Homo sapiens: one gene and its partner. The protein of the gene in region 1 interacts with the protein of each later gene in a pairwise test. Each region holds a gene or a part of one and is shown in the gene's direction. Other genes may lie near its edges.

What was found.
Region 2: the proteins of DCDC2B (region 1) and ZNF574 interact in binary tests that used the Homo sapiens proteins (3 or more experiments, as listed by UniProt).

The regions. Positions count from the first base shown.
Region 1 is NC_000001.11:32,206,762-32,210,668, forward strand, and holds the start of DCDC2B (doublecortin domain-containing protein 2B), read left to right. Parts: upstream 1-2,327; 5' UTR 2,328-2,332; coding exon 2,333-2,598; intron 2,599-3,907. Other genes in the region: IQCC (IQ domain-containing protein C), read left to right, coding at 241-359, 479-1,321.
Region 2 is NC_000019.10:42,074,316-42,078,222, forward strand, and holds the start of ZNF574 (zinc finger protein 574), read left to right. Parts: upstream 1-1,850; 5' UTR 1,851-1,971; intron 1,972-2,168; exon of another isoform or gene 2,169-2,189; intron 2,190-2,230; exon of another isoform or gene 2,231-2,295; intron 2,296-2,313; exon of another isoform or gene 2,314-3,907. UniProt on the Homo sapiens protein: May be involved in transcriptional regulation.

The DNA.
Region 1 (3,907 bases):
GTACCTCTCTGCAAAGATCAGGGCAAGCCCCTGACCCTCACTGTGCCTCAGCCTCCCATCTGAAGAGTGAAAGGCTTGCGCTAGATAAGCTGCATCCCTTTCCCGTCTTCCCTCTGCCGGGATAGGGCCACCACATGGTTGGGCAGTGCAGGGGAGGGAGTTTCCAAAGTCTAAGGCTAGGCCATTTCCCAGGGTCTGGTCCCTCAAGGTTTTCTCCTTCCTTTCTTCCCTCCTTCACAGAAGCCACAGATCAAAGACTGCCCCACAGCCAACCTCAGCTTCAAGAGCTTCAGTACCACCGCAGCCACTTGGCCATGGAATTGCTGTGGCTGCAACAGGCCATCAATAGCCGTAAGGAGGTAACACTAACCTGGAACTCTTTCTGAACATTTAGGGTCAAGGGTGGGGGTTAGGGAGAGACGACCTGCCATGCCCAAGCAGGCCTGCTTGGTACAATGTATGTTCTCTCCCCCAACAGTACCTACTTCTTAAACAAACACTGAGATCCCCAGAGGCGGGCCCGATCAGAGAGGAACCCCGCGTGTTCCTAGAACATGGGGAACAGGCCTGTGAGAGGGACCAGTCACAACCAAGCGCACCACTGGAGGACCAGTCCTACAGAGACAGGACCACTGGAGAGCTAGAACAGGAGGATGACTCCTGTCACAGGGTCAAATCACCCCACAGATCCCCAGGAAGTTTGGCCACTACACAAAAAAACATTGCTGGGGCTAAGTGCAGAGAACCATGCTACAGCAAGTCTGGACCACCGTCGTCTATACCATCAAACAGCCAGGCCTTGGGGGACAGGCTCACCAAAGGGCCAGACGATGGAAGACAGACCTTTGGAGGGACCTGCCTGCTGCAGATGAAAATCCTGGAGGACCAGACCCCCAGAGGTTTAAAACCTAGGAACCATTGTCCCAGGAAGTCCAGGACACAGCTGTCTGCACTCTATGAGGACTCAAATATTAAGGAGATGTCTCCCAGAAAACTAGACCACAAAGAGCCTGACTGCCGAACAGTCAGGACACAAGAGTTGGGCCTCTCAGAGGACCACATCATCTGGGATGGTACCTTGGGGGGGCCAGAGCATAGTGTCCTCGATCTCTGGAGGACTAAACCACCCAAAGGCCAGGCCCCCACTGATAGAAGCTCCAGAGATGGAACCTCCAATGAGCCTAGTCATGAAGGACAGAAAAAGCAGAGGACTATACCATGGAGATCAAAGTCACCTGAGATTCTGTCTTCTACAAAGGCAGGCTGTACAGGAGAGGAACAGTGGAGGGGCAGGCCATGGAAAACAGAACCACCTGGCTAGACCCTAGGAAGCCAGGAGAGGATCAGGTTCCAAAGGGGAATGCTATGAAAGGGCAGTGAGACAAGACCTCATCCTACCTCCCTGACCAGCTCTGGCTTCTGCTCCTGCCCCTGGCCATTGGTGACTAGTGGGGCCAAGAGAAGCTGGAGCAGAGAGCTGGCATGAGTATAGGGAAGGAGGAAGGACACATTTTCAATCCTCTGCCTGTAGCTCAATCCAAATTTGTGGATAAGGGGCCGGGTGCAGTGGCTCACACCTGTAATCCCAGCACTTTGGGAGGCCAAGGTGAGTGGATCACCTGAGGTCAGAAGTTTGAGACCAGCCTGACCAACATGGTGAAATGAAACCCCATCTCAACTAAAAATATAAAAATTAGCCAGGCGTGGTGGTGCATGCCTGTAGTCCCAGTTACTCGGGAGGCTGAGACAGGAGAATCGCTTGAACCCAGGAGATGGAGATTGCAGTAGGCCAAGATGATGCCACTGCACTCCAGCCTGGGCTACAGAGCGAGACACGGTCTCAAAAAACAAATGTGTGGCTAAGGAGTTACCTGGGGGAAGTAGAATGAGAGGTCTGTTGGGAATAAAGGTTTTTCTTAGATTCTGAGTCTGGCTGCTTTCATTTCTGCTTCTGGCCAGGACAGATTCTGGGCCCTGCCGTTCACTTCCTACTGGCATGGGGCATTGACCCCGGAGCCAGCTGGGAGCCATGGCCCAGGAAAAGATCTAGCCATCCTCCTTAGGGAACAGCTCCCAAAGCTGATCCCCAATTGAGCTCAGCCTTGTGCTTTAGAGTGGCAAGGAGGCTCTGGAGAGTAGGGTAACACCTATGTTTAAGTGTGATCTCCCCAGGGCAGATGGGATAAAACCCTGAATGCAGATAAATGCTCCTGCCACAGTCTCCCTCTGCCTTCCTGGGTGAGAGGGCAGGACTCCACCTCTGATTGGCAATGTTCCCAGCCCTTCCTTGGTTGCCTGGCAACAGGTCTGTTTCTCTGACTGAGGATACACTATGGCAGGTGGCAGTCCAGCAGCCAAGAGGGTAGTGGTGTACCGGAATGGGGACCCATTCTTCCCAGGCTCCCAGCTGGTGGTGACTCAACGCCGCTTCCCCACCATGGAGGCCTTCCTCTGCGAGGTGACATCAGCTGTGCAGGCCCCACTGGCTGTGCGTGCCCTCTACACACCTTGTCATGGCCACCCTGTCACCAACCTGGCAGACTTGAAGAACAGAGGGCAGTATGTGGCCGCTGGATTTGAACGATTCCACAAGCTCCAGTGAGTGGGCTGGGGCTGGTCAAACAGCCTAGCAAGGGAGGTAACGGCAAGAGCGTGTATTCAGTACCTACCATGTATGTACCAGCATGTTACTGGTACTTACTGAACTCTATGTAGGGGGGGTGGTTTTGCCTCCATTAGAAAGGGAAAACAGACAGAAAACCTGCCTAAAAGTACATAACAAATAGTTGAACTGAAATTCAAATAGAATTCTGTGTGTTACTAATGTTTATGCCCATCACAGCCAAGATCAGCCTGTGGGAAGACCACTCTCCCACAGGGTGAGCCCCTTTTTCCAAAAGCTCTTCTTGCTTGGACCCCCTATCACTGAACACTCTAAATCCACCCATCCATTCCTCCCCACTGTGCATAGGCATCCCAGACTCTCCCGTTAGGCTAGGGCCATCCTCTGTTGCAGGAGGAGACTGTCTCCCAGGGTGGGAGAAGAATTTGAGTACCTGAGTCTCTGACTCATGTCTGGCTTCCAGGTCCTACTCTTAGCTCTCAGCTGAGGTTGCTTACTATAATGTAAGGATCAAGAGGGAGTAAGTGGCTGGGCACGGTGGTTCACGCCTGTAATCCTAACACTTTGGGAGGCCAAGGCGGGTGGATCACCTGAGGTCAGGTGTTCGAGACCAGCCTGGCCAACATGGCGAAACTCTGTCTCTACTAAAAATACAAAAATTGGCCAGGCACGATGGCTCACACCTGTAATCCCGGCACTTTGGAAGGCCAAGGCGGGCAGATCACCTGAGGTCAGGAGCTCAAGACCAGCCTGACCAACATGGAGAAACCCCATCTCTACTAAAACTACAACATTAGCTGAGCGTAGTGGCGCATGTCTGTAATCCCAGCTGCTCGGGTGGCTGAGGCAGGAGAATCGCTTGAACCTGGAGGCAGAGGTTGCAGTGAGCCGAGATCGTGCCACTGCACTCCAGCCTGGGCAATAAGAGTGAAACTCCATCTAAAAAAAAAAAAAAAAAAAAAAATCAGCCAGGCCTGGTAGCACGTGCCTATAATCACAGCTACTCAGGAGGCTGAGGCAGAAGAATCGCTTGAACCCGTGAGGCGGAGGTTGCAGTGAGCTGAGATCGCACAACTGCACTCCAGCCTGGGGGACAGAGTGAGACTCTGTCTCAAAAAGAAAAAAAAAGAGAAAAAAAGAAAAAAAAGGCCAGAGGAGGGAAGCTAGGTAGACTTAGAATCTAGGCTTCATTCCTTGTGTGACTTTGGGCAAGTCACTTAATTTCTTGGAATCTCATACAAAATGGAGATAAAACGACCTATCTCATGAATGAGAATATTCTTG
Region 2 (3,907 bases), on another chromosome or scaffold:
GTGGTGGCGAGCGCCTGTAGTCACAGGTACTCAGGAGGCTGAGGCAGGAGAATCGCTTGAACCTGGGAGGCGGAGGTTGCAGTGAGCCGAGATCGCGCCACTGCACTCCAGCCTGGGCGGCAGAGAAAGACTCTGTCTCATAAATAAAATAAAATAAAATAAAATAAAATAAAATAAAATAAAATAAAAATAAAATGAGTAACTCCTAGATGTCTTTTACTCTCTGCCTCACATGAGATGAAATGGGGCTCACATGAAATGGGGCTGTTATTAGCCCCATTTCACAGATTAGAAACTTAGGCTCAGGACAGTTGACTTGCCCTAGAACCAGGATTCCAATCCGGGAATCTGTTTTAACTATACATGCCTGGTGTTAGGGAATTTAATCCATGAGAAGGTTAGGACATCTAGTGACCAAATGGCCATAGAATTGGCCCCGGGTCTCACTGTGAGACGCATCCCATAGTGGCTTCAGGTAAGTAAATAAATAACACAATTCTGAGAGTCAGTTTCCTCATCCGATAAGTTGAAATTCCTCTGTGTTTGGGTTCAAGGAGTAGGTCTGGAAATGTTTCTTTTCTTCTTTCAGATGGAGTCTCGCTCTGTCGCCCAGGCGGGAGTGCAGTGGCGTGATCTCGGCTCACTGCAACCTCGGCCTCCTGGGTGCAATCAAATCTCGAGCCTCAGCCTCCCGAGTTGCTGGGGTTACAGGCACGAGCCACCACGCCCAGCTAATGTTTTGTATTTTTAGTAAAGATGGTAGTTTCACCAGGTTGGCCAGGTGGGTCTCGAATGCCTGACTTCAAGTGAACCCGCCTCAGCGTCCCAAAATGTTGGGATTGCAGGCGTGAGCCACCACGCCCAGCCTGGAAACGTTTCTAACAGTACTGGGGCAACTCCCTCCCAAGGCCCTGAGGGGCGCAGGAACGAGGTGAGTAGGAATGGCCAGAGCCCCTTGGACACATGGGGCCCCAATCTCGAGGTGTAAGGGTCAGAGTCACCCCGGAAGGAGGTGGAGTGGAGTCCGCCCGTTACCGGCTCACTTCCTTCAGGCTCTCACCCCGATTGTCCTTCAGGTCCTCTACCCACCACACTCCCTATTTCTTCCAATGAAATTGTCCCTGCTTCTTTTTCTCCATATCCTCGCTCTCCTTGCTTCCCCTATGACATTTCTCCTCTCTCCACCTCCCAAAAGTCCCCTCGGTCTTTTCTCTGTTTCTTCCTGTTGCCTTCATTCCCCTCCTTTTAATAAAGTGAGTCTGGAACCTTGGTTTCCCTTTTCTCTCTCCATGTGACTGGTGCTGCATGCAGTTTGCCCTCTCCCCATCGCGCTAAGTGGTTTCACTTTCTCCCTCTGACCCTCGGGGAAACCACAAAGGTTCCCGTGCCTCCATTCCCCCGCTCCAGCCCTCAAGGTGCCGCGTGCCTCAATTTCCCAGGCTCTTTTCCTCCCTCTCCCTGTCCCCAACGCTGACTCCCTCACGGCGTCCCCAAAATGGCGCCCGCGGCCGCGCTCCGCCGCCTAACGTCATCGCGCCGCCCTCCGCTCAGAGTTCCCCTCTGGAGCCGTCGGAGGCGGAGTCGAGGAGGAGGAGGAGCATCCTCTAAGGAGGATTAAAGGGGCGGGCACTATCCACCCGAGGGCTGACCGGTGAGGGAACGACGCTAAAGGATTGGTTGGGCGCTGCGGGGAATCTCGACGCTCCTCACTATTGGCCCAAGCCTCAGAGACATGAACGTCGATTGGCCGAACGGCAGGGCCCGAGCGGGCAATGATTGGTTGCGTCCGGCCGTCCGTGCGGCGGCCGAGGAGGAAGGTGGGAGGGGCGTTGCTGAGGGTAGCTGGGGGCGAGAGCGAGGCTACGGAGCAGGCGAGAGGCGACGGCGAGAGCTAGAGCGGGCGCAGCGTTAGGGTGGCCGTGCAAGGGGAGCCGTGGCCCGGGCCCGGGGCGTGCGAGACGGCGGAAGCAGGTGAGCGCGAGCGGGCGCGCAGAGGCCGGCCGGGCTGCGCTCCCTGCCGCCGCGGCCTCCTCTTGCCAGGTCGCCTGCGCACTGAGGGCCTGAGGGGGTGCGCGCCGGGCAGTTAGGGCGGAGCGGCACCAACGGCCGACCCGGCGCGCGGGCAGCCGGGCGGGGGCCGGGCTGGAGCGGCGGGTGGGGAAGGGGCCTGGAGTCGCGTGCGGGGCTGAGTGAGGAGGGGCGGGGCTCGGGCTGAGGCTTTGGTGGGGCACCTGGGCGGGAAGGGGAGGCCTCAGAGCTGTCCCAAGAGGGCTCCGCGGCTCCCCAGGGTTTGGGGTAAAGGACTTGGTGGTGTGGCAAGTCCAGGACGAAGGGGCTGGGCCGGTTAGACGGCACGTGGGTGCCCAGTTAGGGGCTTAGGGCGTGAGAAAGATAATTAAGTTAATGCAGGGGAAAAATATCTAGTTCTTCCTGGAAAGAATTGGGGCGGTGAGAGGGGTTTTGGTGTGAAGACATTAGGAAATCGATATCCCCAAGGGAACGGTTTAGAGCTAAGGAGGGGTCCAGTTGTAATGGATGGGGTTAAATTAATGTGAAGAGGCCTTAAACCAATGTGTCAGGAGGTTGGGTACCCTTGGAATGCGTGGAAAGGAGTCTTTGTACAAAGAAGGATTAAGTGTATTTTAAAAGGGTGTCTGGGTGTCCCTAGAATGAGCTGGGGAAGGTAGTCTTTTTTAAGTACAGGTAATTAGGCCAAGGTGAAGATGGGATTTGGTTATTGGAAGGGGAGGAAGTAGGGTGGGAGAGATCTGTGTGCTAAAGTGAGGGGTGCCTGGGAATTCCTGGAATGAGACTGAGAGGTTGCTAAGACGCTGGGGGGTCTGAGTACCCCCAGAATAGGAGGCTGGTGAGAGGGGCTTGAGTGTGAGGAAGAGGGGTCTGTGCTGGATTAAGGTGGTGATGGAGGTTCTGTATGAGAATAGGAGGTCCGGGTATCCCTAAAGGGGGTTTGGGCAGCACGAGGGGTGTGTGTAAAAGGAGCTTAAGCCATTGTGAAAGATGGGTGTGTGGATCTTTACACAAAGAAGAGGAGTTATGTTGCTACGAAGAGGAGGGTCTGAGCATCCCTAGAATGGGTTAGGGTGGGTTGGGTCTTCTAGCAAATTAAAAAAGATTAGGTTAATAATGTGGAGGAGGATCTGGATATTCCTGAGATGGATTTGAGGGGGGGCTCTGTTTGCAAGAGAGGCATAGGTTGATATAAAATGAGGGTATGGGCATCCCTGAATGAGTGGCTGTGTATGAACAGGAAGGGTTTAAATCAATGGGAAGAGGGGATCTGGGTATCTCAGAGGGGATTAGAATTGTCGATTTGGTCTTGGTACAAAGAAGAGGTGATGAATGTAAAGAGTGGATAGATACCCTGGAGACAGGAGCTAGGGTGGTGGAAGGGCCTAGGTCCGAAGCGGGGAGGAGTAGGCTTTTGTGAAAATGGGTCTGGGTATTCTGGATAGGGGGTTAGGGTTGTAGGAGAGGGCCTTGATTTGTAGAGGAGGTTAAGTAATTAAACAGGGCTGCGTATCATGAAGTGGTTAAGGTGGGCAAAGTCTGGGTGTGGAGATGGGTTAGGCCAGTGTGAGAAAATTTGACTGGGGGGAAGGGATATAGTTTGACGTGAGGAATCTGGGCACCTGAGGAAGAGTTGGTGGGTAGCAGGGGTTGCGTGTAAAGGGGAGGGGTGGCACCTTGTACAGTGCTGAAAGTGGAGTGGTGGGGCATTGGGCAGTTTGAGTGGTCTGAGTGTAAAAAGAAGTCTGAGAACCTGGGAGAAGGAGCAGAGGCCATGGGAGGGGTGTGGCTGGGAGAAACAGGTGGGGAAGGCCTATATGGGGTTTCAGTTGGGTACCTTGGAGAGGAATGGGGTGAGGTGAGTTGGTAAGAAAAGGAG